2 separate regions of the Homo sapiens genome follow, and region 2 is linked to region 1. The links come from fine-mapping of genetic effects on gene expression. A gene starts in region 1. The other region holds a variant in brackets. All regions are shown on one strand. Distances are between the middles of the regions.

Region 1 (16,600 bases):
TCCTGCCTCAGCCTCCCAAGTAGCTGGGATTACAGTCATGAGCCACAATGCCTGGCTAATTTTTGTATTTTTAGGTAGAGACAGGGTTTCACCATGTTGGCCAGGCTGGTCTTGAACTCCTGGCTTCAAGTGATCGGCCCACCTGGGCCTCCCAGAGTGCTGAAATTACAGGTGTGAGCCACTGCGCCTGGCCCCCAAAAAATGTGTAAACAAATTTTTCTACTTATAAATATTTACATTTCCCAGACCAGGGAGAGGATGCAACTCCTATGCCCCAGTAAACAGCATTTATTGGAGTCTGTGAAAACATTACTAAAATAGCCCTTATCTTTCATTAGTTTTCCCCTATATATTTACCTTCTTAAAATCTACTGCCCCTAGAAGTCCAAAACCTTTCCTTTGTCTACTTTTCCACAATGCATCACCCTTTGTTAAAATGATACATGCTCCCAGGCCTAATTACTTTTTGAGTTTTCACTTCTTTTCTGTGAAGCCTCCTTGTGCATGCAAAATAAACCTTTTTTTTTTTCCTGGTAATCTGTACTTTGTTAGTTTAATTCACAGTTCTCAGCTTCTGAACCTAGGAGGGTAAAGAAAGTTTTTATCCTTTCCTACACTAGGAAAGATGGGTAAATAGTTCTCTGAAAACTTTTGATTGCGATCTGCCAAGGAAAATTTCCCCCAAGGAGAGACAACACAGTGATGAATAAATGTGTTAATAGAGAACGGAAAAGCCATCGCAGGTGGCGGGGTGTGTTGTTTGTGTGTGTGTGTTTGCGTGTGTTTGTGTGTGTGCGTGTTTGTGTTTGTGTGTGCCTGCATGTGTGTGTGCATGCATGTGTTTGTGCGTGTTTGTGTGTATGTGTTTGTGTACGTGTTTGCGTGTGCATGGGTATTTGTGTGTGCGTGTGTGTGCGTCCTTGTGCGTGTTTGGGTGTTGTGTGTGTGCGTTTGTCTGTGCGTGCGTTTGTGTGCGTGTCTGTGTATGCGTTTGTGCGTGCATGTGTGTTTGTGTGCGTGCGTGTCTGTGTTGTGGGCGTGTTTGTGTGTGCCTGCATGTGTTTGCGTGTTTGTGCACGTTTGCGTGTGTATGCATGTTTGTGTGTGTGCGTGTGTTTGTGCATGTGTGTTTGTGTGTGTTTTGTGTGTTGTGTTTTTGTGTGTTTGTGTGTTTGCGTGCGCGCATGTATGTATGTGTGGTGGGGAGTTAGGAGCTTTGGCAGCAAATGGAGCAAGGAACTTGCTTGGTCCCTTGGAGAAAAGAGAGGTGGCCAATGGGGTTGGTCAAGGTTGGGGTGGGGCAGCATGCTTATATAGTAGGGACGTACACAAGCAGTTTTGGGTTTTCTCTCTGAGCAATAAAAATCTTTTGAAGGTTTTAAAAGGAAGTAGGTGGGGGTGAGCTACGTACGATTTGAATTTTTAACTTTTTTTCAGTCATCAGACTAACATAAAGTGGCATGTAAGACTGTGGAGTGAATGTTTAGAAGAGATATTTCCAATATGCTTTAAAATGAGAGCAAATGGGAAGCTTGAGGCATTACCCACTTCGCTTCTCTCTACTATTTCTAGAGTTGAATTACAATTTAAACAACAACAACAACAACAACAAACAGGTCACTTCTTGAGTCTTAATGCACCAAATGAGTCTATGGGTGTTTTGTAGGAGAGTAGAATTTTTTTCTGTTCAAGTTAGTGCAGAAAGATCTACCATCTCTTTCCTGTATCATGAAAAAAGTTTCCATTTAAGGATGTGGTAACAAAACCACAAGGCACACTTGAACATATGCCATGGAAATACACGCTGTTTACACGGAATCTGTGAGCCACCAGCTCCTTTCTCTAAACTACTGAAGCAGGCATATACGTCCTTCTCCCCAGCCATCTTGAATGGATAGGTGGAATTCCTGGAGAAGTGAATAATTCCATCCCACATGTCACCTACCACAACACCTTTTCTTGTTTTGTTCTGTGAACCCACAATATGTGAGACAGGTCTCAGTCAATTTAGAAAGTTTATTTTGCCAGGGTTGAAGACGCACCCTTGACACGCCTCAGCAGGTCTTGATGACCTGTGTCCAAAGTGGTTGGGGCACAGCTTGGTGTTATACATTTTAGGGAGACATGAGACATCAATAACTGTATATAAGGTGTACATTGGTTCGGTCTGCAAAGGCGGGACAACTCAAAGTGGGGAGGGGGTGTCCAGGTCATAGGTAGATAAGAGACAAATGGTTGCCTTATTTTGAGTTTCTTTTTCTTCCTTTCTTTTTTTTGAGACCAAGTCTCACTCTGTCACCCAAGCTGCAGGCTGGAGTACAGTGGTGCGATCTCGGCTCACTGCAACCTTCAACTTCTGGGCTCGAGCAATTCTCCTGCCTCAGCCTCCCGAATAGCTGAGATTACAGGTGCCCACCACCACACGTGGCTAATTTTTTTGTTCTTTTTTTTGAGGCTGGAGTGCTGTGGCACCATCTGTCTTCTGGATTCAAGTGATTCTCCTGCTTCAGCTTCCCAAGTAGCTGGGATTACAGGCATGTGCCACCACACCTGGCTAATTTTCGTATTTTTAGTTAGAGACGGGTTTAACCATGTTGGCCAAGCTGGTCTTGAACTCCTAAGCTCAAGTGATCCACTTGCCTCGGCCTCCCAAAGTGCTAGGATTATAGGCATGAGCCACCATGTCTGGCCTCTTCTGAGTTTCTGATTAGCCTTTCACTGAATACACAATTTACAGGTATAGTCACTTATGCTTTAGTCTGGGTTAGTGAAAAAACAGGGCAAAGGAAGCAATCAGATAAGCATTTGTCTCACAGTGAGCAAAGGATGACTTTGAGTTCTCTCTGTCCTTTGTCCACAAGGAATATCCTTGTGGGCAAATTGTGAGGTAGGTATGTAGCTTTATTTTTTTCATTTATTTTTATTATTATTTTTATCTTTGTAGCTATCTTATGTAGGATAAGATAGCTACAAAGATAAATTTCCCTTTTTTTTTTTTTTTGAGGCAGGGTTTTATCCTGTTGCCCAGGCTGCAGTGCAGTGGAGCAATCACAGTCATGGTAGCTTCCTGTCATGGCAGCCTCCACCTCCAGGGCTCAAGCTATCCTCCTGCCTCAGCCTCCCGAGTAGCTGGGACCACAGATATGCACCACCATGGCCCGCTAATTTTTTACTTTTTGTAGAGGCGGGGTTTTGCCATGTTGTCCAGGCTAGTTTTGAACTCTGGGACTCAAGAGATCCTCCCACTTTGGCCTCCCAAAGGGCTGGGATCACAGGTGTAAGCCACTACCCCCAGCCTGATTTGCTCTTTTCAGTACAAATGTGTTGGCATTACAGATGTCCTTGACAACATTCATGGGCAACTGGGATTACTCATCAGGTTACAGGAATCTACATTCTTTTCTTCCATGGTCACAGAATCCTGAGAGATTGTGCTCCTTATCTTTCCCATGAGATTCAGTGTTTCCAGCACAAAAACACTCATCACTCTAAGGACCATTTTTGGTTTACTGGTCTAGGGACCAGTTGTGTCCGGAATTGGTGGGTTCTTGGTTTCACTGACTTCAAGAATGAAGCTGTGGACCCTCACGGTGAGTGTTACAGTTCTTAAAGACGGTGGGTCCGGAATTTGTTCCTTCTGATGTTCGGACATGTCCGGAGTTTCTTCCTTCTGGTGGGTTCGTGGTCTCGCTGACTTCAGGAGTGAAGCCACAGACCTTCGCAGTGAGTGTTACAGCTCTTAAAGGTGGCGCGTCCAAAGCTATTCGTTCCTCCCGTCTGGAATTGTTTGTTCTTCCCAGTGGGTTCGTGGTCTCGCTGGCTTCAGGAATGAAGCCGCAGACCTTCGCTATGAGTGTTACAGCTCATAAAGGCAGCACAAATCCAAACAGTGAGCAGCAGCAGCATTTATTGCAAAAAGCAAAATAAGAAAGCTTCCACACCCAGGAAGGGGACCCCAGCGGATTGCCGCTGCTGCTCTGGTGGCCTTTCTTTATTCCCTTATCTGGCCCCACCCACATCCTGCTGATTGGTCCATTTTACAGAGAGCTGATTGGTCCGTTTTGACAGAGTGCTGATTGGTGCATTTACAAACCTTTAGCTACACAGAGTGCTGATTGGTGCGTTTACAATCCTTTAGCTAGACACAAAAGTTCTCCAAGTCCCCACCCGATTAGCTAGACACAGAGGCTGATTGTTGTGTTTACAAACCTTTAGCTAGACACAGAGTGCTGATTGGTGCATTTACAGCCCTTTAACTAGACAGAAAGCTCTCCAAGTCCCCACCGGTCCCAGAAGCCTAGCCGGCTTCACCTCTCACTGGCGCTCTTCGCGGGATTTTGCGGCACTTACCCCGGGTGCTCCAGTAGCCCAGAAGGAGCTTGTCCCAGACAACCAAGAGGAAAAGAGGGGAAGCGAGAAAGAGAGGGAGACCCGCCATTCTGGCCAACGACCCTGCGAAGAGGGAATGGCGGTGCACGCACGGGACCCAGCCTCTGATCAAGCCCAGCAGGCGCCGGCCAGCTGCGCTGAGTGCTGGGCCCGTGGAGCCCGCGCCCACCCGGAACCTGCGCCGGCCCGCGAGCGGTGAGCGCCGGGCGCAGCCCCGGGTTCCGCCCGCGCCTCTCCCTCCACACTTCTCCGGGAGAGGAGGGAGCCGGCTCCGGCCTCGGCCAGCCCCAGAGAGGGACCCCCACAGCGCAGCGGCAGGCTGAAGGGCTCCTCCAGCGCGGCCAGAGCGGACGTCCTGGCTGAGGAGGCGCCGAGAGTGAGCGAGGGCTGCTAGCACGTTGTCACCTCTCACAGTCACTTGAGACCTTAAAAACAGTGTGTCTAAATGTTGTATTTCAAGGACCACCTAAAGCAGAATACTTTGGGATGCCTTCCAAATTCTTGACTGCTACTCCCGACCTTCTGAATTTAGAACTCTTGTGGGTAAAGCCCGGAATCTGAAAAGTTAACAAGAATCTCAAACAATTCCTGTGCAAACTAAAGCAAAGCTTGAAAGTCATTGTCGGAAAAAAGGTAGAATGTCAGTTTTCTCCACCAGTTTTCCAAGGGAACCCTAAATGCTAGTTAATGTCATATCCTTTAAATGTTCTCTATTGTTATGTAATAGCTAATTAGTGTTACCTTTCAGTTTCAATACTTCTTATATGGATGGTTTTCCATTCTCCAAAGTTAAATGGTGGAGATGAGAATGTGGATGAGAGGAAGGGAATTCTTACTTTTTCAGCAGGTGCTATTTGCCTGGTGCTTTAGCATTCATCTCATTTAATCCTCTTCACAATTTTGTAAACTGAGAATTACTAACTCTTACAGGTTGATTCAGAGAAAGCTCAGAGGAAAAAAAATCTTTTTTTGGGTCAGGGTCTCACTCTTGTCACCCAGGCTGGAGTGCAGTGGTGTGATTTCGGCTCATTGTAACCTCTGCCTCCCAGGCTCAAGCTATCCTCCTGCCTCAGCCTCCCGAGTAGCTGGGACCACGGGCATGCACCACTATGCCTGGCTAATTTTTTTTTTTTTTTTTTTTTGTAGAGACAAGGTCTTCTTACGTTGCCCAGGCTGGTCTCGAACTCCTGGGCTCAAGTGATACACCCACCTCGGGCCTCCAAAAGTGCTGGGATTACAGGTGTTAGCCACCGCACCCAGCCCCTCCTGTATACTTTAAATAATCTCTAAATTATTTATAATACCTAATAACAATGTAAATACTATGTAAATAGTTGTTATACTGTATTGTTTACAGACACCAAAAAGTCAGTCACCAGAAAGACCATGTGATTAGAGTGTTAGAGGGTTGGAAATTTCAGCCCACCCACCAACCAACAGGAGAGATCGGGGGCGGGTGGCTGGAGATTAAGCTCTATACAAACTCTTAGACAACAAGATTTCATGAGCTTCTAGGTTGCTGAATACAGGGAGGTGCTGGGAGGGTGGAGTGCCCAGCGAGGGCATGGAAGCCCCATGGCCTTCTTATCTTTGCCCTATCCATCTCTTCATCTGGCTGTTCATCTGTATCCTTTATAAATCCTTTACAATAAACTGGTAAACATAAAATATTTTCCTGGACTGACGTCTGAATTGGGGCAGTCTTGTGGGAGACTGGGCCCTTAACTTGAATTGAGTTATAGGACATCGTGTTGATGTCCTTTAGAGTTGGTTGGTGTGTAGGGAAATACTCCCCCAGCCCCTCTTCTGGTCACAGAACTGCTCTGTGTTTTGTGCCAGTAGAAAGGAGAAAACAGTTTGTTTTTTCCTTTTACAGCCTCATCATTTAGCTCTCAGCTCAAATGGTAATTTCTCAGAGAATCTTTTCTGGGCCATCCTACTTGTTATGGCACTACCTGTCATATTGCTCTGTTTTCTTCTTCAAGGTACTTATTATTATTTGAGATAGAGTCTTGCTCTGTTGCCCAGGCTGGAGTGCAGTGATGCAGTCATGGCTTGCTGCAGCCTCAACCTCCAGGGCTCAAGTGATCCTCCCACCTCAGCCTCTTGAGTGGCTGGGACTACAGGCACATGCCACCACATCTGGCTATTTTTTTTTTTTTTTTGAGACGGAGTCTCACTCTTTCGCCCAGGCTGGAGTGCAGTGGTGCGATCTTGGCTCACTGCAAGCTCCGCCTCTCGGGTTCACACCATTCTCCTGCCTCAGCCTCCTGAGTAGCTGGGACTTAGGCACCCGCCACCATGCCCAGCTAATTTTTTGTATTTTTAGTAGAGACGGGGTTTCACTGTGTTAGCCAAGATGGTCTCGATCTCCTGACTTCATGATCTGCCTACCTCGGCCTCCCAAAGTGCTGGGATTACAGGCGTGAGCCACTGTGCCTGGCCACATCTGGCTAATTTTTTAAAAACAATTTTTTGTGGAGATGGGGTCTTACTATGTTGCCCAGATTGGCCTCAAACTCCTGGTCTCAAGTGATCCTGAGCCTCGGCTTCCCAGAGTGCTGAGATTACAGGTGTGAGCCACCGTGCCTGGCCCAAAGCACTTATTTATTTGAAATGACATGATTTGTTGGCTACCTCTCCCACTAGAATGTTTATTATAACAACCTTTCATCTTTTGTTCATGACTGTCCAGAACTGTACATGGTACATGGTGGGAATCTAAAATAACAAACATTCTCTTGTTAAGGTAATTAGTGATTTCTACATTGCAAAATTCAGAGACCAAATTTTGCTTCAAGCTTTCAGCAACAGTGGACACTGTTGACCATTCTTTCTTTCTCTCAATTACCATATCCTATTGTCCTAGTTCTTCCTCCTTCTTCACCAGAGGTTACTTCTCAGATTCTTTCTAGAATCTTCTGCTTGAGGTTCAAATGTTAGTGTTTCCATAGCCTGGGCCTCCTTTTTTGTGGTATCTCAATTCTCTCATGTTACTGTGTCTCTTCCCACATGTCTTAGTTCATTTTGTGTTGCTATAACAGAATACCTGAGACTGGGAAATTTATAAAGTATAGAGATTTATTTCTTATGGTTCTGGAGGCTGGGAAATCCTAGGTCCAGGGGCCTGCATCTGGTGGGGAGCTTCCTGCTGTGTCATTTCACGGTGGTAGGCAAAAGAGAAAGGGAGCTGAACTCATCCCTTTTATCGGGAACCCACTCCCCAATAACTAACCCACTCCTGTGATAATAGCATTAAGAGCTCTGCCCTCATAACCTAATCACCCCTTAAGAGTCCCCCCTCTCAACACTATTGCTTTGGGGAATAAGTTTCCAACACATGAGCTTTGGGGGACACATTCAAACAATAGCATCATGACATTAAATGCTATCTTTATATTTACAACATAACTACCAAATTTACCTTAGTTTTGAACTTCAGACTTTTACAGTTTATCTATTTATTTGACACGTCTACCTGGATGCCTAATAGTCACCTCAAACTTAACATGTTGAGCATAGATTCTCTATTATCTCTTATTTCAGTCCTTGGTCCCAGCATTGGTTGGTTCCATGCCGAGGCCCCACTGCTCTGCCATCTCTTATTCCACTCTTCCCCTAACTTACTTTGCTTCAGTTATGGCCTTGTTTGCCTCTTGTCCCCCAAATTTTGTTTTATTCACTGCTGTATCCCCAATACTGATAACAGTGCCTGGCAGGTACTGTTAGGTACTAATAGGTGCTCAATATAATAATCTGGTAAACATAAAGTGTTTTTTTGAGTTCTGTGAGCCATTCTAGCAAATTATGGAACTCAAGATGGGGGGTTATGAAAACCCCAATTTATTTGTTGAGAGGGAGTCTCTCTCCATGGTCCAGGTGCAGTGGGGCAGTCTTGACTCACTGCAACTTTCGCCTCCCAGGTTCAAGCGATTCTCTTGCCTCAGCCTCCCAAATAGCTGGGATTACAGGTGTGCACCACCACGCCCAGCTATTTTTCCTATTTTTAGTAGAGGTGGGGTTTTGCCATGCTGGCCAGGCTGGTCTTAAAGTCCTGACCTCAGGCGATTCACCTGCCTTGGCCTTCCAAAATGCTGGGATTACAGGCATGAGCCACCACGCCCGGCCTGGAAACCCTAATTTATAGCTGGTTGGTCAGAAGCATAGGTCACAACCTGAGACTTGTGATTGATGTCTGAAGTTGGGGCCATCTTGTGGGACTGAACTCTTTATAGGATCTGACCAAATAACTCTTCCTCGAAACACAAAGTTAGGGCTTTTGCATCCACTGTTCCCCAGATGGGAAGATGAGTCCCCTGATCTTTGTACGGCTAGTTCTTTCTCATCATTCAGGTCCCAAGCTTCAAAAACCACTTCCTCAGCAAGGCCCTCCCTGAAGTTGTGTCCCCAGGCTCCATTATATCACCCTGTTTTTCATCAATGTTATTACCTATCATTACCTATTATTTTTGTTGTTTAATTGGTATGTCGTTTGTCCTATTCTATTTCAATGAGTACAGGGATCTTGTCTGTACCATCCATGCCTAAAACAGTGCCTGGTGCGTATTAGGTATTCAACATATATTCATTGAATGAATGAATGAATGAATGAATGAATGAATGAATGAAAGAAACCCAAGCCTGCTAGACCTCAAAAGCCCAGAGAACTGTTTTCTCTGGCTGGTTCTTCATTCAGACGATATTTTCTCCTCTTGACATTTTATAGTCTTCCGGCCTCCATGCGCAAGGAACCATGTAAAGGTTCTGAGCCTTGAAACCAGACAATGTATTTCCCTGTTACTTTTCGCTTGAATCTTCTCTGTATTTAGCAACCAGTCATAGAACACTAACCATGTACCAAGCGCTATGCTAAGTGCTGAACACATAGAGCTGAATAAAGCACAGAACTACCCTTGGTACAATTATTGAGGTTTTAATAATACATAATTTGACTACATTTCTTAGATTTCGCGTCGTGACGTTTTCAGCCTCTCAAACTGCATCGCCTACGCACAGAAGCTTCCCGAATCTCAGACGAGACACAACAAAGCTGCGCGCTGCCCTCGCCCCGCCCGCGGGCGCGGCGGCGACAGGCCCTCGGCCCCGCCCACACCGCGGCGCCACGCCTCCAACCCGCCTCCAGCCGTGCCTCCCCAGGCCCTTGGCCCCGCCCACACCGCCTCGCCCCGCCCCAAGCCGCGCTGTGCTCCAGGGGCGGGGGCCCACGGCGGCCACTCACTGAGCCCCACGGGCCGCAGCGGCAGTGACGTAGGGTTGGCGCACGGATCCGTTGCGGCTGCAGCTCTGCAGTCGGGCCGTTCCTTCGCCGCCGCCAGGGGTAGCGGTGTAGCTGCGCAGCGTCGCGCGCGCTACCGCACCCAGGTTCGGCCCGTAGGCGTCTGGCAGCCCGGCGCCATCTTCATCGAGCGCCATGGCCGCAGCCTGCGGGCCGGGAGCGGCCGGGTACTGCTTGCTCCTCGGCTTGCATTTGTTTCTGCTGACCGCGGGCCCTGCCCTGGGCTGGAACGACCCTGGTGAGTGCTGCCAGGGCCCTCAGGCGCTTCGTTCGCCCTTTTCCGCCGCCGTCAGCCGGTGCAGGCTCCCCTGCGTTTCCGTGCGCCGTCTTCCCGGAGCCTGGGTGCCCGGATTCCCCATGTCTGACCTCTTTGCTGTTCGTGCTCTCCCTGGTTCCACTGCTCTTCCCAGGCGTCTTGGGAGGCGGGTAGGGACTGCTCGAGTGGGCGGGGCGGGACGGCTGGAGATCCTTAAGGTCCCCTTTCTCCCTGCCCCGGACTCCCGGAATTTGCCCATTGTCGTCTTTCTCATCTCTGAGTATAACTGGAGAGCTGGACACTCACCTGCGCATCTGCTTTGTTGTTATGGCTGTGTGATGTCATCGTGGCCTGCTGTTGTCATGGCTGCCTGTTGCTATCGCCGGCCGTTGCCTGCCACTGGCAGTCTCTGAGTCACCCTTAGCGGACAGGGCTGCAGACCTCGCAGGTCTGTTAGCAGAATCGCAGATTGCACTCTTTTTTTTTTTTTTGAGTCGGAGTCTCACATTGTCGCCCCGGCCGCACTGCAATGACGTGATCTCGGCTCACTGCAACCTCCGCCTCCTGGGTTCAAGAGATTCTCCTGCCTCGGCCTCACCGGTAGCTGAGATTACGGGTGCCCACCACCATGCCTGGCTATTTTTTTGTATTTTTAGTAGAGACGGGGTTTTACTATGTTGGCCAGGCTGGTCTCGACCTCCTGACCTCGTGATCCACCCGCCTTCATCCTCCCAAAGTGCTGGGATTACAGGCGTGAGCCACCGCGTCTTTATGAGAACCGCTGCCTCTTATCTGACGATTGCAGTGATGTACATCGCGCGGCACCAGCTCTTCCCATTGGCTTTCACCGTAGAGAAGAATTTAAAAAATAATTTTCTCGGTTTTTTTTAGTGATGGTACATGATAAGTGGGTTTTAGGAAAGAGGTTCTTTTATGTCAGTACAGTATTAAAATTGTCTAAAGAATTTTCATGGGATCAGTAATATTCCGTGCAATTAATACGTATATGTCTATATACTTAGATACAGATTTTGACTTTTTCCATGTAATAAATGACGCATGCTGTTACTTTGGAATTCTGTAAAAAAAAAAAAAAATGAAAACAACATCATTTTTGCTTTGCGAAGTAAAGATGGCATGGAAAGCATATTGCCTTTGTGATTTGGTGATTGGAAATGCCTGCATTGTCGAATTTAAGCAACAGGTTTATTTCTATAATAGCCTATTCTTACATGCTGAAATGAGAGAGAAGGTGCTATTTGCAAGCACATCACGTTGAGTAGTCATTTGATGTGGACATTTTATTACCAAAAATAAAAAGCCAAGTTGTATTTAAATGTCTGTACGTTTTTCTTTTGTATTTCTAGAAAGCTGTGTATGAGTGGGAGACTTGATCAGAATTACAAGTGAAAACCTAGAATGAAACTTTAATTTGTTGAACTTTGAATCAGTTCGTAAATAAATTTAATAAAGGAAGTTTACAGTTGAAGAGCCAGAAGAACTATAAAAACTATGAAAGAAGAACCAAATTTAAATTAAAGATGAACCACTTCCTGGTTTATCTACGCTGTAAAACTATTGTTCTGGAACACAAAGCACCACAATATTTTGCAGAGTAAACTCAATTGTTTTATGTAAATTCTACTTCAAAGTTTACTTTGAGGAACTTTTTTGTTTTGTTTTGTTTTTTTGAGACAGTTTCACTCTTGTCGCCCAGGCTAGAGTGCAATGGCGCGATCTTGGCTCACCGCAACCTCTGCCTCCTGGGTTCAAGCGATTTTCCTGCCTCAGCCTCCCGAGTAGCTGGGATTACAGGCATGTGCCACCATGCCCGGCAAATTTTGTATTTTTAGTAGAGACAGGGTTTCTCCATGTTGGTCAGGCTGGTCTTGAACTCCCAACCTCAGGTGATCCGCCCGCCTTGGCCTCCCAAAGTGCTGGGATTACAGGCGTGAGCCACCGCACCCGGCACTTTGAGGAACTTTTTAAATGAAGATACTTTATTGACATACTATTTATTAAGTCCTTTACTAAAGCATTAATCGGCTCCCTAATTTATCTTTTGTTTGACTTGGATGCCATTACTTTAGCTCACATTGAGCAGTAATTTGTCTGGAAAAAAAAATTAGCACCATTCTAAAGAGATTACCAATGAATTTTCAAAATTCCTTATTGAATGTAATCTTATATTAAGTTACTCTTCCGGGTGTTGGGAATATAGCAGTGAACAAAACAGTGTCTTGCCTCCAAGGACTTTACCTCTATTGGGGAGAAATAGACAATAAACAGATAAACATGTAAATAACATGCTATATTGTGAAAATTGGTATGCACCGTGTATGATAAACAGCGTAAGGAGGACATGGTGTGCGGGCAGAAGTGGAGACTTAAAAAACGTACATTGGTCAGGGAAGTCACTGTTAGGGTGACATTTGACTGGAAACCTGAAGTGGGGAGGAGGAGTAAATGACCTGAAATTACTTATATCTTTAAAGGCTCATTTGGGCTGCTCTGTGGAAAACAGACCGAAGAGGGTAGGAGGGAAGCAGGGAAACCAGTGAATTAATATATATTGCTATCTATTTTAATATTGTACAGTAAGTTCTTAGAGTGGTGACCGCTTGGCCCAGGGCAGGAGCAGTAGAGAGCTGGTTAGAGTAGCTGGATTCTCTTGTCACCTGTTTGGAAGGTGGAGCTAACATGATCTTCTGAAGGATCAGATGTAGGAGTGAGAGGAGAGAAGATGAGAAGTCCAAGGTTTTTGGCTTGAGCAACTAGAAGCATGGAGTTAACCATTTCCTGAGATGTGGAAGAATGTGGGATGATCAGGTTTAGGGGAGTTTGGTTTTGTTTATCTTGTTTGAGACCTGCCGTGATTTTGATTTATGAGTCTGGAGTTCAGGGAGCTCCTGTGTCCCTTGACTGATCTAACTAGTGGGGCGTGGGTATTAGAATTTTGTTCTTGGACCTTAAGAATCTCTAGGGAAGAAAGATGCTATAGGATTATGGTAATGCTATTCCATCTTAAAACTTTCAGTAATATTTATCATACCTGATCACCTGTTATGCTTCAAGTACTCAGCCAGATAATAAATTATATCTAAGCTTCACAACAAATTTCAAGGTTGATAATATTTTAATTTTGTAGGTGAGGAAACTTCTACACAGGTAAATTAAATGCCTTGGCCAAAGTCACAGCCAGTTAGTGACACCAACTTAGTTCAGTGTTCTTTGCATTATTGCAACTCTGTTACAATAAATTCAATTTATTATTTCTGTTATTTAGTTGATTAATACAGTCTGATTTTTCTAAACCATTGAACATTTTCATTGTCTTATTTTTTATGTATGAGGAGGTAGTAGTTTGTGTTTAATGTAGCATGGTTTATTTGAATATAGTTCTTGGAAATTTTAGATCTGTAGCCCATGTGGAATTAAATTTTTATATAGCTTTAGGTGGATTTTCTTGTGGCTGCATAGTCAATTATGCCAGTGCTATTTATTAAAGAAGACATCTTTTATCCACTAAATTAAAAAGACCACTTCATCTTACTGAATTCCCAAATGTATCTTGATTTATTTCTGATCTTTCTTTTGTTTCACAATTTCCTTGTCTCTGTTCCAATTCCCTACTATTTTGATTATAATCTTTTTTTTTTTTTTTTTTTTTGAGATGGAGTTTCACTCTTGTCGCCCAGGCTGGAGTGCAGTGGTAGCAATATCAGCTCACTGCAACCTCCACCTCCTGGATTCAAGTGATTCTCCTGCCTCAGCCTCCCAAGTAGCTGGGACTACGGGCGTATGCCACCACGTCCAGCTAATTTTTGTATTATTAGTAGAGATGGGGTTTCACCATGTTGTCCAGGCTGATCTCGAACTCCTGACCTTAGGTGATCTGCCCTCCTTGGCCTCCCAAAGTGCTGGGGTTACAGACGTGAGCCACCGTGCCTGGCTGATGATAATAATTTTATAGTAACCTTTACTATCTGGTAACCTATGTGTTCTTTTTCAAAAAAAAATTGTCCACAGGACCTTTAACATAATTTCTTTCCCCAAAAAACCCTATTGGGTTCCTGGTTGGAAGTATATTTAGGTCTCTCTCTCTATATATATTTTTTATATAGATAGGGTATTGACCTTAAGTTTATTAGATTGATTAGATTCATATTAAATACTTGTGGGAAATACATCATAGGAGATGTTGTAACATCAGTTTGTTCCACCATTAGCAAAGCGATGGTTGGCAAACCCAGCCAGACTTTTTCCTTTAGAGTTTTTGAATATATTTCTCCATTTTCTTTTTCTATCCTGTTGAGATACCTGAAGCTTTTCTAAGTCTTATCTTTTCTATATGGCTTGTTTTCTCCCTATTCTTCTGGCAATTTGTAGAATCTTTTTTTGTCTTCAGTGTTCTAAAATTTACTTTTCGTGTGCCTTTGTGTGGTCTGTTTCTCAGGCCTGGGTATTTGTTGGGCCCTTTCAGTATGACAACTCAAGTCCTTCAGTGTGGGAACTTTTCTTGAATTACAGCCTGGAGTTTGTCTAATCAGATTCCCTTGTTCATTCTTTCAGAAGCCCTTGTTGGATTTTTGGACTTTCTGAACTGGTCCTGAACTGGTAATTTTCTTTCTTTCTTTTTTTTTTTTTTCCTCCTACTGTCTTTTTTCTTTCTTTCTTTTTTTTTTTTTTGAGACGGAGTCTAGCTCTGTCCCCCAGGCTGGAGTGCAGTGGCACCATCTCGGCTCGCTGCAACCTCTGCTTCCCGGGTTCAAGCGATTCTCCTGTCTCATCTTCCTGAGTAGCTGGGATTACAGGTGCCCGCCACCATGCCTGGCTAATTTTTGTATTTTTAGTAGAGACGGGGTTTCACCATATTTGCCAGACTGGTCTCGAACTCCTGACCTTGTGATCTGCCTGCCTCGGCCACCCAAAGTGCTGGGATTACACACGTGAGCCACTGTGCCCAGCCTTTCTCTCCTACTTTCTATCTTTTTGCTCTACTTTCTTTTTTCTTTTTCCTTTTTTTTTCAGATGGAGCCTTGCTCTATCGCCAGGCTGGAGTGCAGTGGCACAATCTTGGCTCACTGCAACCTCTGCTTCCTGGGTTTAAGCAATTCTCCTGCCTCAGCCCCCCGAGTAGCTGGGACTACAGGCACGCGCCACCATCCCCAGCTAATTTTTGTATTTTTAGTAGAGCCGGGGTTTCACCGTGTTCGCCAGGATGGTCTTGATCTCTTGACCTCGTGATCCACCTGCCTCGGCCTCCCAAAGTGCTAGGATTACAGGCATGAGCCACCACGCCCGGCCTCTTTTTGCTCTACTTTCTAGAAGATTTTCTTTTAACAGTTCTGTCGTATGTATGTATTTATTTATTTATGTTTTGTGACAGGGTCTCACTCTATCACCCAGGCTGGAGTGCATGGCTCACTGCAGCCTCGACCTCCCCAGGCTCAGGTGATTCTCCCACCTCAGCCTTCTAAGTAGCTGGGACTGCAGGTGTGTGCCACCATACCTGGCTAATGTTATAATTTTTTTTGTAGAGACAGGGTTTTGCCATGTTGCTTAGGCTGGTCTTAAACTCTTGGGCTCAAGTGATCTGCTTGCCTTGGCCTCCCAAAGTGCTGGGATTACAGGCATGAGCCACTGCACCTGGCAGTTCTGTTGTTTTTAATCTTGGCTGTCCTGTTTTTAATTTCCAAAAGCTCTTGTTTTTTCTCTGAGTATCCCTTTTAAAAATGATTGTTTTATTAACGCAGTCTTTTTCTCTTATCTCTCTGAGGATATTACAGTGTTTTTAAAAAAGTTTTCTTCTTGTGCGTCATCTCTTTTTTCCTCCTGCTTCCTTTTGTTGTTGTTTTGTCCTGGTTGCTGTATTTCATGTTAGGGGCTGTTTTGTCTGTTTAATGTTACTGTAACACAATACCACAGACTGGGAAATTTATTAAAAAACTGAATTCATTTCTCACAGTTCTGGAGGCTGAGAAGTTCAATATTAAGGTGCTAGCATCTGGTGAGGGCCTTCTTGCTGTGTCATCCCATGGTGGAAGGCAGAAGGGAGAGAGTGAGAGAGGGGAAAGGGGCCTAACTCATCCTTTTATCAGGAGTCCACTCCTGCGATAACTAACCCAGTCCTGCAAGAACAGCATTAATCTATTCATGAGGGCAGAGCCCTCTTAAAGATTCCATCTTTCAACACTGTTGCATTGGGGATTAAGTTTCCAACATGTGAACTTTGGGGGACACATTCAAACCATAGCAGGGACTTTCCTCATATTTTTAGTAATCCTTGGCTCCCTGCTCATGGTTAATTCTGGGGAACCAAAAAGCTCATTGGAAGCTATCAGTGTGCAGTTGCACTTTTGATTTTGAACTTCACAACAGGGTGACCTAGGTTGCTCTTTTTTGGAGGAAGTTCCTGATGTCAGTGTATTTAGGTACTTCTTCTTGGTTAGATTACCAAGGGAATAGTCATCCAGTCTCCCACAGAGGACAAGGGGATGGCTGTTAGCATTTTGTGCACCATGTGGGGAAGGAGAACTGTGCTTTCAGCAGTCAGAGTGCACACAGTCACTTGGGTTCCCTGTTTGGTTGTTTTTGTCCCCATGCCCTTTACTATGCCAGATGGTCCCCAATGCAAATCCCTTCAGTTTTATCCTCTC
Region 2 (16,600 bases), 28 kb after region 1:
ATCACCTGAGGTCAGGAGTTCGAGACTAGCCTGCCCAACATGGTGAAACCCCATGTCTGCTAAAAATACAAAAATTAGCTGGGTGTAGTGGCACATGCCTGTAATCCCAGCTATTTGGGAGGGTGAGGCAGGAGAATCGCTTGAACGCGGGAGGCAGAAGTTGCAGTGAGCCGAGATTGCACCATTGCACTCCAGCCTGGGCAACAAGAGCAAAACTCTGTCTCAAAAAAAAAAAAAAAAAATATATATATATATATATATATATATATGGCTAGGTAAGACATCATGACAGAAAAATATTCATTCTCAGTGGAAAGAAGACTTGCATAAAATCATGACTATGAACTAGAAATGTATGGGAATTATATGAAAGAAAATCATAAAAACCAAATAATGTAAACCTGAAAATAATTGAGAGACTTTCTAGATAGGAAGATTTGTCATCCTGTAGCCTGTGTGTGTGCGCACAGTGTCTTAAGTAACGTTTAAGCATCTAAAGTCCGTAACCCTCCCCACATTACGTCTCTTACCACTGGAGTTGTGAGAGGTAGCAGGGCATGGCTTATGCGCCACTGGCCTCTGTCTTTTTGGCTTAGACTTTGAGTATTGCCTGTACCATGGTGGCCCCACTATAGAATGCATTCTCTTTTTTGGGGTCCTAACTGTCATTCCCAGCAACCATGTGTGAGTGTAGTAGGCTTGATGATTGGGAAGGTTGCTGTGGGAGGCGATGCACTGTCCTGCTTAGCCCAGTTCCACCTAGTGGCACACTCTTTCCTTTCCTCCTATCTCATTCATTTGCTGACAATAAACATGTATGACTTGTAATTTTATAAGCAATTCTAATGCATTTTTAAAAACTAATGTAAATTTTACCCCTCTCATTCTAGGATATGGTGGTACCAGGAGACGATAAAGTAGAAAGTTGGAGTCAAACACTGGATGCAGAAATTTTGGATTTTTCATCACTTTCTCTTTAGAAAAAAAGTACTACCTGTTAACAATTGGGAAAAGGGGATATTCAAAAGTTCTGTGGTGTTATGTCCAGTGTAGCTTTTTGTATTCTATTATTTGAGGCTAAAAGTTGATGTGTGACAAAATACTTATGTGTTGTATGTCAGTGTAACATGCAGATGTATATTGCAGTTTTTGAAAGTGATCATTACTGTGGAATGCTAAAAATACATTAATTTCTAAAACCTGTGATGCCCTAAGAAGCATTAAGAATGAAGGTGTTGTACTAATAGAAACTAAGTACAGAAAATTTCAGTTTTAGGTGGTTGTAGCTGATGAGTTATTACCTCATAGAGACTATAATATTCTATTTGGTATTATATTATTTGATGTTTGCTGTTCTTCAAACATTTAAATCAAGCTTTGGACTAATTATGCTAATTTGTGAGTTCTGATCACTTTTGAGCTCTGAAGCTTTGAATCATTCAGTGGTGGAGATGGCCTTCTGGTAACTGAATATTACCTTCTGTAGGAAAAGGTAGAAAATAAGCATCTAGAAGGTTGTTGTGAATGACTCTGTGCTGGCAAAAATGCTTGAAACCTCTATATTTCTTTCGTTCATAAGAGGTAAAGGTCAAATTTTTCAACAAAAGTCTTTTAATAACAAAAGCATGCAGTTCTCTGTGAAATCTCAAATATTGTTGTAATAGTCTGTTTCAATCTTAAAAAGAATCAATAAAAACAAACAAGGGGTTTAGTCTCATTCTTTCTATTAGCCTAGGCGCAAATAAATGTTACTTTTTGTTTTTTTAAACCCTTTTTCCCAAAGGGGAAAGTTCATGCAGAAGTTCTGTCTCCCTAAACAGTAATTTTATGTGGTAGTCGTACCTTAGTCTTTTGGTAAATGTTTTCAAAAAGTAATTTACAAATGGTGTGGAAGCCTCTGCCAAAAAATAGCGTTTGAAAAAAATAATTAAATCTCCAAGCCTCCCAACCCATCAGAGATTGCATGGTTACACTTAGTTAAGCTTCATAACCTCAAAGCCCCAGTTTTATATCTTATGTGTTTAATGATTTTTGCCATTTAAAACTGCAGTTACTTTTCACCAACCAATAAGAACCAATTTAAAACAAACCCTTATTAAGACTATTGCATAATAAAACTATCCTCTTTTCATCAGTAAAACAGTAGAAATTTTAACTGATAGAAGAAACACAGCTTTACTTTATGTATATCCCACTAAATCCTTACCCCATTTCTCCTTAGTAGAAGGATATGGAATAAAAGAGAATGTAGTTTGTTGCTTTTTTTTTTTTTTTGAGACAGAGTCTCTCGTTCTGTCACCAGGCTGGAGTGCAGTGGCATGATCTCGGCTCACTGCAACCTCCTCCTCCTGGGTTCAAGCAATTCTCCTGCCTCAGCCTCCTGAGTAGTTGGGATTACAGGCTCCTGTCACCAAGCCCAGCTAAGTTTTTGTATTTTTAGTAGAGATGGGGTTTCACTGTGTTGGCCAGGCTGGTCTCGAACTCCTGACCTCAGGTGTTCCACCTGCCTCAGCCTCCCAAAGTGCTGGGATTACACACGTGAGCCACCGCGCCCGGCTTACTCAGATTGTTTTTGAACATAGTACTGCAGATCATTGGGATTGTAAGAAAATAATGAGTTAATGTAAAGAGAGTTGACTGTTCTTCCTGTAGGCGATAGCTTTAAAAAAAAAGAGTTGACTTGGTGGCTTTTAGATTACTCTGGGGAGCCCTAGTGGTGTTCTTATGAGGTTCTTTAGAGGGTCCCTGGAGGGAAGGGAGGAAAAGAGGCAGAGTATAGGTTTCAAGCCCCACCTGAGTGTTCCTCTTTTATCTGTTGTGTATTTGTACTTCCTTGTCATTTAAGAACTTTTTTTTTTTTTTTTTTTTTTTGGTAGAGATGGTGTTTCACTATGTTGCTCAGGCTAGTTTCGAACTCCTGGCCTCAAACAGTCCTCCCACCATGGCCTCCCCAAGTGCTGGGATTACAGGCATGAACCACTACTCCCGGCCCTTTGTTGTCTATGGAAAAGGTTCACATGTATCACTTCCCCAAATGTAAAACTTAGAATAATAAGATAG[T/C]ACAGTCTAAGGCAGGAGGATTGCTTAAGTCCAGGAGTTCGAGACAAGCCTGGGCAACATAGCAAGATTTCATCTCTACAGATTATTATTTTAATTAGCTGGGCATGGTGGTATGCACCTGTAGTCCTGGCTACTCCAGAGGCTAAGGTGGGAGGATCACTTGAGCTCGGGAGATTAAGGCTGCAGTGAGCTGTGATTTTGCCATTGCATTCCAGCCTGGGCAACAGGGTGAGACCTTGTCTCTTAAAAAAATAAGGTGAGAGCATTGATTGAGAAGCAGTGGGATCCTGAAAAGTGGAATGGGGACATAAGAAAGGATCCTGATGAAGCCAGTGAAATGGAACCCCTAAATTCTGCGTAGTATTTCTTGCCGGTAGAAGCAGCCCTTCTACTTCTGTCTGAGAAGGTTAATCCTACTTTGCCTGAAGGATCTGTAATGGTCTCTTCAGAGGTGTTCGTTACCAGGCATCACTCATCTGCCTCAGGGTCTGCCCTTGCTACCTGCTTTGCTCCTAGATGTACAGCTAGACTCACGTTCCAGTAGGCACCAAAGAGTGAGGTACAAATTATGATCCATGAGGAGGTACCCTGCACACCAAAAGGACTCCATGATTTTCCCAGTCTATACAGATAGAAATCTGGGGAATATGTGTGGGAATGGATCTTAGAGTGTAGGATATGGTGGTAGGACTGTAAAGTTCAGTCAGGACAACTTTATTGATATTGGCCCACTCAGCAGAGATTCTGGATTCAATATTTGAGAGGTTAGAAAGGACTCTTAACAGTTTAGTTGGTTTGCTGAACATGGACTCGAAGATGGCCTACACTAAAGTCAAAATGCCAGAACTGCCTCAGTGTACTGTGGAGGAAGGGATTCAAAGGCTCAGGGAGATTGGAATGTTAGGGTGGATTTATCATATAAGCCCCACCCACCCACCCTGGAGGAGTCAAGAGAATACACTTTTCACCATGATGGTGAGAAATAGATTTTTGAGAAGGAGGCCCACAAATTTGGTTTCTCTTCTTTGTAGGTCAGAATGTACAGTGGGAACTGCTACCATCAAACTGGGACCCCTAGAGGCAGTGGGGTTAATTTGATCCCAGGGTAGCAGGGGCCAAATGGTGACAATCAGCAAAGATAGCGTGGCATGGTTATGCTGTAATGGGCAGCAGAGTCAAAGCAGCCATCAGAATTGTTGGACTCAGGCCAGGAACACTGGCACATGACTGTAATCCCAGAACTTTGGGAGGCAGAGGCAGGAGGATTGCTTGAGGCCAGGAGTTTGAGACCAGCCTGGGCAATATAGTGAGACTCTATCTCTACAAAAAATTTTATGAAACAAAAATTAACAAGAATTGTCTGACTCAGAGACCTATGGCATTGGCTGGTTGATCATTGTGTACCTATGGAAGAAATAGATGGCAGTCTACTAAATTCTTATTTGATTTATGTATGTGGAAGAGTTCTAGGCTGAGTAAACGGAAGTCTTTTTTTTTTTTTTTTTTTTTTTTTTGAGACCAAGTCTCACTCTGTCACCCAGGCTGGAGAGAGCAGGGGCATGATCTCGGCTCACTGCAACCTCTGCCTCCCAGGTTCAAGCAATTCTCCTGCCTCACCCTCCCGAGTAGCTGGGATTACAGGCGCCTGCCACCATGCCTGGCTAATTTTTGTATTTTTAGTAGAGACAGGGTTTCACCAAGTTGGCCAGGCTGGTCTCAAACTCCTGACCTCAGGTGATCCGCCCGCCTCGGCCTCCCAAAGTGCTGGGATTATAGGTGTGAGCCACTGTGCCCAGCCAACAGAAGTCTATCTTAAGTCACCACAAGTGAGTCATAGCCTCTGAATCATTTCCTAGACTTGAGCTGGTTTATAGCTCCAGAATCCCTTCAATGAAGGAGAGGCTGGGTTCCCCTTGAGGAAGAACCCTACCACATTGCCAGGTTTATATTGTTTATCTTTCCCCCAGTCTTCCCTCAATGGACCCGTGGCTATTTACTGGGGTAACTATGCCCTGGGGAAAGGGAAAATAATCAGATAGTTTAGGGATTACTGGACACTGAATTGATGCTAATTCCAGGAGGCTCAAAACATTACTGTGGTCCACCAGTCAGAGTAAGAGCTTATAGAGTTTTAGCTCAGATCAATTTCACAGTGAGTCCCATGGGTCCCTCGAATGATCCTGTGATTATTACACAGGAATGGAACCTGCGTTCTAGAATGCAGGATTAGAATAGACATACTCAGCAACTAGCAGAATCTCTACGTTGGGTCCCTGACCTGTGGAATGAAGGCTGTTATGGTGGCATAGGCCAAGTGAAAGTCACTAGAACTACCTCTATCTACAAAAATGATAAACCAATAGTGGCTGTGATATGGACACTTGATTAAAGGGGCTGAGAGGACTTGTGGGGAATCCCAATTGGAAGAACATCCAAGTTAGAGATGAAGGCGACTAGGGAGAGTTGGAGTGAGGAAATGGGGTGAAATGGAGGGACACAGAAAGTGCCTGAGCTCTGTGCCTCAGAATGTGATCTTATTTGGAAATAGAGTCTATGTTAGTCCATTTGTGTTGCTATAAAGGAATACCGGAGACCAAGTAATTTATAAAGAGGTTTAATTGGCTCACAGTTGTGCAGGCTGTACAGGAAGCATGGTGCCGGCATCTGCTCCTGGTGATGCCTTGGGAAGCTTCCCATCATGGTGGAAGGTGCAGGGAACAGGTGCGTCACATGGTGAGAGTGGGAGCAAGAGAGAGCGAGGGAGGGAGGTCCCAGATTGATTGACTGATTTTTTTTGAGACAGAGTCTTGCTCTGTCACCCAGGCTGGACTGCAGTGGTGTGATCTTGGCTCACTGCCTCACCTCACCTCTGCATCGTGGGTTCAAGTGATTCTCCTGCATCAGCCTCCTGAGTACCTGGGATTACAGGTGTGTGCCACCACACGTGGCTAATTTTTGTATTTTTTTTTAATAGAGGCAGGGTTTTACCATGTTGGCTGAACTCCTGGCCTCAAGTGACCCTCCTGCCTTGGCCTCCCAAAGTGCTGGGATTACAGGTGTGAGCTACCGCACCTGGCCAGGTCCCAGACTTTTAAACAACCAGATATTGTGTGAACTAACTGAGCAAGAACTCATTCATCACGAGGGGGATGGTGCTAAACCATTCATGAGGGAATCCTCCTGTATGCTCCCAACACCTCCCACCAGGCCCCACCTGCAACATTGGGAATCACATTCAATGTGGGATTTGGAGGGGACAAACATCCAAACCATAACAGGGTTACTGCAGATGAAATTACGATGAGGTTATACTGGAGTAGAGTGAACACCAATGATTCATGTCATTATAAAATGAGGAAATTTGGACACAGACACACAAACAGAAATAATCATGTAATGTCTGGAGTTCTGCCAAAAGCCAATATATGCCAAAGATTACCAGCAAACCACCAGAAGCTGAGAGTCAGGCCTGGAACAGATCCTTCCTCAGCACATACAGAGGGAGCATGGCCCTGCTACCACCTGGATATCAGACTCACAGCCTCTAGAACCGTGAGATAGTAAGTTCTGCCTTTCTGGAGGGATTACAGAGATTAATGCCACCATCAAGGACTTGAAGGATATAGGGCTGGTGCTTCCTACCACATCCCCATTCAACTCGCCTATTTGGCCTGTGCCGAAAACGGATAGAGAGTAATAATAGGTTGTCATAAACTTACCCAGATGGTGACTTCAATTGCAACTGCTGTTCCAGATGTAGTTTCATCACTTGGGTACATGAACATATCTGGTAGTTGAAACACAAGTGCTCTGGCAAATGCTTTTCCTCCATACCTGTTAGTACACACCATCAGAAGCAGCTTGCTTTCAGCTGGCAGGGCCAGCAATACACCTTCACTTTTCAGTCCTATGTCATAATTTAGTCTGCAAGGACCTTGGTTACCTTTCCCTTCCACAAGACTTCACACTGGTCCATGACATTTATTATATTAAGCTGATTGGATCTGATGAGCAAGAAGAGCAACTACCAAGAAGTAGCAACTACTGTAGATGTATTGGTAAGGCATTTGTATGTTAGAGGGTGGGAAACAAATCTGACAAAGATTCAGGGGCTTTCTACCTCAGGGAAATTTCTAGGAGTCCAGTAGTATGGGACATGTTGAAATATCTTTCTAAGGCCAAGGATAAATCGTTACATCTGGCTCCAGATGAAAAAAATGATGCAATACCTAGTGGATCTTGCGGGCAACATATTCCTTATGTGGTATGCAACTCTAGTCCATTTACTGACTGATCGCAAAGCTGCTAGTTTTAACAGGAGCCTAGAACAAAAGAAGGCTCTGTGATAGGTCCAGGTTATTGGGCAAGCTCAAGAGTCATTTTAATATTCATTTTTTTTTCTTTTTTCAGAATAGTCTTGCTCTGTTGCCCAGGCTTTAGTGCAGTGGTGTGATCTTGGCTCACTGCAAACTCTGCCTCCTGGGTTCAAGTGATTCACCTGCCTCAGTCTCCAGGGTAGCTAGGATTACAGGTGCCCATCACCATGCCTGGCTAATTTTTGTATTTTTAGTAGAGACGGGGTTTCACCATGTTGGCCAGGCTGGTCATGAACGCCTGAATTCAAGTGATCCGCCCGTCTTGGCCTCCCAAAGTGCTGGGATTACAGGCATGAGCCACCGCGCCTGGCCAGCAACCTAATTTTCCCTTGATAATTAGGATGAATTACCTGTTAGAGTGGCCCCTTACTTTGTCCATTTGTTCAGTAGCATGAGGAGCCCAAACTGTCCAAGGACAGTCTCAGGTTTCCAATTCATCGTGACAGTGTTTCCTGGTGGAAGCATTCCTTCCTTGTGCACTGGAACTTCCAAATCCACTATATCAGCACCACTTGTACACCTTCTCAGAGGCTCTTAACTGCCTTCTCCTTTCACGTGGTTGGTGTCACACCCACACCAGGTCACCCCTCCACTTTGAGATTTGAATAAGACGACACATTGCAAGGTGTGGAATATGGTTTCCTGTGTGGCTGCCGGGAGCCCAGATGGTGCAACTCAGTTGTTTAGGGAATTAGCTCAATGGAATGAGCAATGACCAATGGGAAATAAATTCCTATCTTTTCAGGGATTACTGCAAGATGTGTTTTCTTTTTGCAACTCTTCTGGAGAAGTCCTTTGTGCAGAGTGAACCTGCCTGCAAAGCGACCTACTGTGTGTCTGTAGCTCATTGTGAAGCAGTGCCGCAATCCATTGCATGCCATTGCATCACATCTTTATTTGTCTCACTTTTTTCCCTCACCCTGTGTCTTTGGACATGCTTCTGTCCAAGTGCCAGAAATGTTTTTCTTTTTTTTTGCTTGAGTTCTGCTTTCTAGAGGACTTGTGTTAAGACAATTGGTGTGAAAGTTGTACAGGATGGAATTTTGGAATTGGACTGTTCAAGGAATCAGAAGAACTTGAACATCGACATCTTCCTAAGTCTTTCTTTCTGGCATAGCAGCCCCTTCCTTCTTGCTGAAGGGGATTAGCCTTCCTTGTCTAGAGACCATGTAACGGCCTCACCTGAAGCAGATGCCTTGTAAGATAGCATTTTTTCTTAAAACTGAGTCCTGCCACATCTCTGCCTCCAGGCCAATAACTAGAGTCAGATCTCAACCTTAACAGGGAAAGACAGTCCCTGCTTTGGGAGGAAATAAGCCACACAGCAAAAGAATGATAACCTCTTGGAATTATAGCACTTGCCTTGGGAGGAAATAGGTCACATACTAAAAAAATCATGGTACCATACAGCTAATATGTACCAGCGAGAGTAGGGATAAACCATGTGGAAATTCATCTGGAAGTTGGGCTGTGGGAGGGGTGAAATATGGTGGAAAGAGAAGTCCTTTATGTTCACCTGTGAATTGGGATTCAATGTTCTGTCAAAGACATGAGCTACTGGTTCTAATAATTTTCTGGGATGGTTTCTTGATGGATGATGATGGTTTCCTGATTGGATGTGATGATGCCTACCGTAAGTGAGGTAGAGATGCCAGACTTTCTATGGTATAGTATTGAGCACAGTATCTGAAGACTCAAGGAAGTGGGATGTTAGAATTTACTTATGAGACTGAATAATCCAACATTTGACTCTACTCTGAGGGTTCAGAGCATCTCCCTTTACCAAGGTAGTAAGGAAGGTACTGGTGAGAGAGTTATTAGCATTTTTAAGGGCTCAATGATAGTTGTCCTCTGTAGGCAAAGGTTAATAGTGGGAAATGCTGTCATGAAAATGGACTTCCCAAGATTAACAGAGATAGTGGGTTTCCGAAGTGGCAAATTGCATCTCTTCATTGTCAGAGCCAACCAAGGTGGATGGAATTCCATACAGGACAGCAAGTCAAGAGTAGCCTGATTTACAAATGGATCTGCATGATATGCTGATACCACCTGGAAGGACAGTGAAGGGAAGTGCCCTGAGGGGGTGGAATTTTGAGCTATGCATCTGAAATAAGAGATGGCAAGACATATGTATCTACACTTTTCAAAATAGACAGTGGTTTCTGGTTTGAATGGGTGACCAGGGGCTTGGAAAAATGAGACTGAAAAATTGACGATAAAGCTGGGCAAGCTGGCTCATGCCTGTAATCCCAGCACTTTGGGAGGCCGAGGTGGGCGAATCATCTGAGGTCAGGCATTAGAGACTAGCCTGGCCAACATGGTAAAACCCCATCTCTACTAAAAATACAAAAATTAGGCTGGGCGCAGTGGCTCACGCCTGTAATCCCAGCACTTTGGGAGGCTGAGGCAGGCAAATCACAAAGTCAGGAGATCGAGACCGTCCTGGCTAACACAGTGAAACCCTGTCTCTATTAAAAATACAAAAAATTAGCCAGGCGTGGTGGCACACACCTGTAGTCCCAGCTACTCGAGAGGCTGAGGCAGAAGAATCACTTGAACCCAGGAGGCAGAGGTTGCAGTGAGATGAGATCGTGCCACTGCACTCCAGCCTGGGTGACAGAACGAGACTCTGTCTCCAAAAAAAAAAAAAAAAAGAAAGAAAAATTGATAAGGATATCTGGGGGAAATGTAGATGTATGGTCCTCTCTTAACAAAGATGAGATTTTTTTTTTTTGTCCAATATACATGCTTACAACTACCTGAGTAGTAGAATATCACAGAAATTCTGGCATCTCCACCTTGCTTACTATAGGCATCATCACATCCAAGCAGGAAGCCATCATCCCTCAGGAAACCATCCACTCAGAGTATTAGGATCAGTAAGTAGTTCATGTCCCCGACAGAACGTTGCATCTTAAGTCACTTCATAAGATGACATTTTCTGTGGCTATTATTCAGCCTCTTTTTTTCAGCAAGCCCTACTCCTGTTTCATTGGCTCATAAACAAAGTGGCTAAGGTGGTAGGGATGAAAGTTATCCATCGATTCAGCAAAAGGGTCTTCCATTCACCAAAACCGATCAGGTTACAACCGCTGCTGAGTGCCCTATCTCCCAACGGCAGAGGCCAACACTGAACCCTGAATACGGTTCAATTCCCTGGGGAAATCAGCCCACCATCTGGTGGCATGTTGATTACATGAGACCACTTCTATCATGAAAGGGGCAATGATTTGTTGTCACTGAAGTAGACATTTACTCTGGGTTTGGATTGGCCCTTCCCACTCGAAAGGCTGTTGTTGAAACCATGATATGTAGATTTACAGAATGCCTTATTGTGTATCACAATGTTTCACATTGTTTCTAAGTAAATCATTTTCTAGTGGATGAAGGGCAGGATGGGAATAATGCCCACATAATTTATAGGAGTTCCTGTCTTCCCTGGATCCAGAAATAGTAAATCTTCATGATTTTGCTAGCTCTGTGATGCCTTCGGGAAGATGTCTTTTCATATTTTGCTCAGTTTTGTTAGTTTCCGTGTGTGATAGGATTGGTTCAAATCATCTTGCCCTCACAAACATAAAAGTGGAATTCCCTTACTGTAGATATTTGAAGACAGCTCTATTTTTTATTCAAGTTAAAAATCCAAAACACTCTCAATCATTTCTTACTTTACCTAGCTTTTGGATCCTCCACCATCTGGTCATCTACCTAGGTTTGATCATGTTTTTTTTTGTTGTTGTTGTTTTTTGTTTTTTAAATCCCCAGCACAATCTTTCCTTATTAAAGGAGAAAAGACACATTTCTTCCTTACATTAAAATATTCAAAATTATGAGTATTTATCAAGTTAAATTATATTTAATTAAATTATATAGATAAATCATTCACAACTATATATAAGTTAAAATATGCATATTTCATAATTGAAAAAAGAAAAGCAATGCAAGTTCTTTGTAAAACATTCGAACAGTTTAGAAGGATATAAAGAGAAAAGAAAGAGTCTGTATCTGGCTAGGCATGGTGGCACATGCCTGTAATCTCAGCTACTCAGGGGGCTGAGGTAGGAGGATCACTTGAGCCCAGGAGTCTGAGGCTGCAATGAGCTATGACCGTGTCAGTCACGACAGAGCAAGACCCTGTCTCCAAAAAGAAAAAAGTCTATATCTGCCCAACTCCCCACGGCCCCCTTCGTTTCATCCTCTCAGTGTGGTCTCTCTACCTAGAAATAATTTCTGTTAACATTTTTTGGTTATTATTATAGAAATTATACACAATGTCCAGAATTTTTTCACAAAGAATAAATCTATTCTTTTCACAGCTGCATAGTATTCCATCATATGGATATATTATAATTTAATCTCACCATTCCTTTATCAATATCAATATACATTTACCACATTTTCAATTTTGTTCCCTATTTTCAACAATGCAATAATGAACATCCGAACATATCTTTTGTACATGAGTTTATGTTGTAGCTGCTCCAAACACTGGAGTCAGAGACTTTATTATAGTTTAGATCTTTAATGTACATGTGTTTAGATTTATAAGATATATTTCTAGAATAAGATTTATGCTTAAATGTGGCACCCAGACTGTAATTAAGATATGGATGTCAGAGAAGCTGCCATTTAAACTTGGCCTTTGATCTTCCTGCATGGGAGGATAAAGTGAGTCATTCCAAAGCGGATCTTCTTTGTTCTTTGTGGTTCATAAGTAAAGATAGGGTAAGCAGACATCTATTGCTCTTGGGGAAATGTACAACAAAGCCTTTTAAAAAGGGCTTGATGAAGGCTGCTTTTTAAAATATGCAGAGATGAAAGTTTGCTTAAGCAGAAGTACATTTTCATGGAAACCCAGGTGGCTACTGGAAGAGTATGCAGTATCTCTCACACATCTCTTTTGGACTTCCTCATAAATAGTACCTTTTGGATGGTTAGAGGCAGCTCTTAGGGGAGAGAAGGATGAGTGAAGACCGGGAATTCTGGGTTATTACCCGATTCTACATAGTCTTGGGAAAAAGTGGGTTCTGGGTTAGCTTGTGGCTATGTCTGGAACTGGAATTGTCCTGGATCCACAAGGGCACAATGAGTGTGTTGGGAAGAATGTCTGCATATGTGGTTTTAACCTGGAGAGCTATTACCTGGGAAGTGAGGGAGGAGGACACCACTGTGACCTGCATAGGAATATGGATGGAAAAGAACAGTGGAAAAGAATATACCAGACTGGGAAAGACCAGTATTCATAATGTGGCAACAACAATGGTAGCTGAAAGTTAGGTCTGCTGGTGATGGATTGGATCCTCTGGATTGCTCTCCAGAAGGCATTTCAGAAATATGTTCATCCATTCTGGACAACATCCTGGGATTCTTGAATAAGTGGGCAGAAGAAGAGAAGTCCCTTGAAAGAAATTATACCTCCAACTTATCCAAAGTATTGGGATTCTGCTTGGTTTAGTTAAGTAAAATAAGAGATGCAACAATATTTGTATCTTGATTAAATAAATTATACTGGTTGTTCCAGCATAATTATATGAAGTTCAATGGATATATTACTTTCTTTTGGATAAACATTTCATGATTGCAGCCTTTTGGGAAGCTACATCTCTCTACTACTTCATATTGAGCTTATGAAAGTGACAAAAAAAATGCCACTCTATTTCACTAACTACTATTTCACTGAATTACTAACAGGAAGTCTCTCACCGTTCCTCATTTGTGCAACTGGTTAAAAAAACAAAGCAAAACAAAGAACACCAAGTTCAGGAATTATCAGTTACACACATTAATCTTCATCCCCTTACTTGTCCCTATCTTTTATGGAAGACAATAAAATATTTGTGTAGTAGATATCACTACTAATTCTTATACTTACAATAATCCTGGCACCTTAACCAACACGGATTCAGGATTCTCACTTTTTTGAAAATTATGGATAACTTTGAAAAGCAATGCCAGATTTTATCTTCTCAGATATACAATTGCTCATGGTGTCTCCCAGTCAAAAGTTGTTAGAAAGCAACCAGTCATGGCCCAAAGAATACCCCAAATTTCGAATTGAGTGTTTCCCAGAATCATTGGTTGTCACTTTCCTTTTCTCTAAGTACATTTTCTCTTTTATCACTAGAGGGCAATAATGCTCCACTATACAAGTCAGAAATCTCATTGCGGACAGTAAAATCTCCTAATATTTAGTAGGTTGCTTATGCTGTTGTAAACCTGCTAGATAGATTATTTATTTCCTTCCAGATTGTCACCAGACCATAAAAGATTGCCCCTAGAACCCTTCCCCTTTTTACACAAGTATATTTCCCCTTTTTACACAAAATGTCTCTGACATACTATTAGAATCAATGTAGTCTGCTGTAACTGGTCTCACATTTTCAATCATATAGGACTTAACTCTTTTCCATACAGCAAAATATTTCCAGATTCTGATGACTTCTCATCTCTTCTGCTATTGTCACTCAGGTTCAAGCCACTATCATTTGCTGTCTTAGTGGGGTCTACCCTGACAACTTGCATCAGTTAGGATAGGTCGGGTTATGCTGCAGTAACAAACAAGACCAAAAATCTCATTAGCTTAATATGTAGCTCACACCAAGTGTCTAACACAGGTTGGCAGGGGCTTTGGCTCATGATGTTATTCAGGAATTCTGGCCAAGTGAAGCTTCCTATGGCATGCAGCAGTGGGAGAGGCATGTGGAGAATCACACACTATACTTAAAGCTTCTGTCCAGAAATCACACACATCATTTCTGCTCACATTCCATTGGCCAAAACAAGTCCTATGGCTGTACTTAACTTTAATATGATAGGGAAGTACAATCCTAGTATAAGCCTGGAGATCAAAAACCATATGTATTTGGTGAACAGCAGTAAGGAAACCAAACCACTCTAATGATAATTTCACTTCCCCATTTCTGCCCTAGGACTTTGGATTTCCCTTATTCTGTTCTATTTTCTCCTATAACCCTTATCTTCTGACTTACTATATAATTTACTTTATTATTACTTTTCCTACCCCCTCTTTCTAGAATATAAATTCCACAAGGACAGGGATTTTTGTCTATCTTGTTCTATACTATGTCCATATTGTTCGCAACAGTGCCTGTCTCATACTAGGTATTCAACACATATTGAATGAATGAGTAACCAATGGATCATACATCAATTTTCTTCACCTTATACAACAGCCCACCCTATATGTGGAATGATGACACAAATTAGAGAAATTGACACTGTGCTTATTCAAAACCATGATATTTAGGCTGGGCATGGTGGCTCACAACCGTAATCCCAGCACTTTGGGAGGTTGAGGTGGGCGGATCATTTAAGGTCAGGAGTTCGAGACCAGCCTGGCCAACATGGTGAAACCCTGTCTCTACTAAAAATACAAAAATTAGCCGGACGTGATGGTGGGCGCCTGTAATCCCAGCTACTCAGGAGGCTGAGGCAGGAGAATTGCTTGAACCTGGAAGGCAGATGTTGCAATGAGCCAAGATCACGCCACTGCACTCCAGCTTGGGCAACAGAGTGAGACTCTATTTCAATAAAAAAAACAAAAACAAAAACAAAAACAAAAACCCAAACCATGATATTTAGGAAAGTCTTTGCAAGTAGGATGTCTTACTGGGAGAATGAAGTCTTTTGAATCCGGGACCTATTAAAGCATCATGACAACAAGCAGATTGGGAATATTGTTTACTGTACTGTCTTTATTGTTGGATGCATAAGCATGATGGTAAACATAATGGTAAGTCAATTATTTTCTTTTCTTATTTAATTAATTACTTATTACTTATTATTACCTTTCACTTGATGATTTCTGGAAGCTGGTGTTGGAATGGCAGTGTCGTCCCCCACATCCATGGCCACGATGTCCGGCTAAATTTTGTATTTTTAGTAGAGACAGAGTTTCACCATGTTGGCCAGGCTGGTCTCGAGCTCCTGACCTCAAGTGATTCGCCCACCTCAACCTCCTAATTAATAAGTAATTAATTAAATTAAATCAATTAGCTAATTAATTAATAAGTAATTAATTACATTAATAATCAATTAATTAAATTGGTCTTGTTCTGTCACCCAGGCTGGAGTGCAGTGGTGGGTTCATAGCTTGCTGTAGCCCTGAACTTTTGGGCTCAAGCGATCCTTCCACCTCAGCCTCCAGAGTAGTTGGGACTACAGGTGTGTGCTACCACACCCAGCTAATATTTTTTTCATTTTTGGTAGAGATGGGTCCCACTATGTTGCCCAGGCTGGTCTCAAACTCCTGGCCTCAAGAGATCCTCTTGCCTCGGCCTCCTAAAGTGCTGGGATTAGAGGCATGAACCACTGTGCCTGGCCAATTATTTTAAATATATGCTGTTTCGGTCCCTGCAGAGGCAGATGGAAGCTTAAAAGCTGTCAGCAGTCAAGCATCAAAAAGTGGAGTCAGATTCCTCATTGCGTATACATTCTTATTATTAGTTCAATACTGCCTAACTTGATATTTTAAATAACTCACAATTATTAGTTAGTTATTGGACTTCATGGAAATGAAAGGATCTGTTGTCATTTTCTGTAGGGAAAATGCCCGTGTGGCGGAGCAACAGGCAAGGATGCTTCTCAGATGACTTCCATCATTAAGTGTCTGTGATTCTGGGACATTGCTGTTCCAACACCAGCTTCCAGAAGTCATCAAGTGAAAGGTGATAAAGAAATTGTTTTATCTCATTATTTCCCTTTCTTGCCTTACCCTGTAAGCCTGGTCATAAGAAAGAAGAATAGGCTGGGCGCAGTGGCTCACGCTTGTAATCTCAGCACTTTGGGAAGCCAAGGCAGGCAGATCATTTAAGGTCAGGAGTTCAAGATCAGCCTGGCCAACATAATGAAACCCATCTCTACTAAAAATACAAAAGTTAGCTGGGCGTGCTGGCACACACCTGTAATGCCAGCTACTCAGGAGGTTGAGACAAGGAGAATCACTTGAATCTGGGAGGTGAAGGTTGCAGTGAGCTGAGATCACAACACTGCACTCCAACCTGGACGACAGAGTGAGGCTGTGTTTCAAAAAAAAAAAAAAACAAAAAACAAGAAGAATAGTCAAAGAATGGAGAGGTTTGATGGTTATTTTGATTTCAAAGAAGTTATGGAAACCTCTTTTTCTTTTTTTTTTGTTTTGAGAT

What was found.
Region 2: its variant is fine-mapped to the expression of SARAF in whole blood (TOPMed, PIP above 0.99).

The regions. Positions count from the first base shown.
Region 1 is chr8:30,076,170-30,092,769 of GRCh38, reverse strand. SARAF (store-operated calcium entry associated regulatory factor) reads left to right here and starts at 9,706. Exons shown (of 6, transcript NM_016127.6): 1 at 9,706-9,923. The coding sequence starts at 9,821. RefSeq lists a silencer at 9,383-9,752 and enhancers at 9,793-10,142, 16,265-16,314.
Region 2 is chr8:30,048,204-30,064,803 of GRCh38, reverse strand. It overlaps SARAF (store-operated calcium entry associated regulatory factor), which reads left to right. Exons shown (of 6, transcript NM_016127.6): 6 at 891-1,801. The coding sequence ends at 916. Among named protein-coding and RNA genes, the nearest start is that of SARAF, 27 kb to the left of the region's middle. RefSeq lists an enhancer at 6,665-7,864. The variant T/C (reference allele first, on the strand shown) is at 3,061.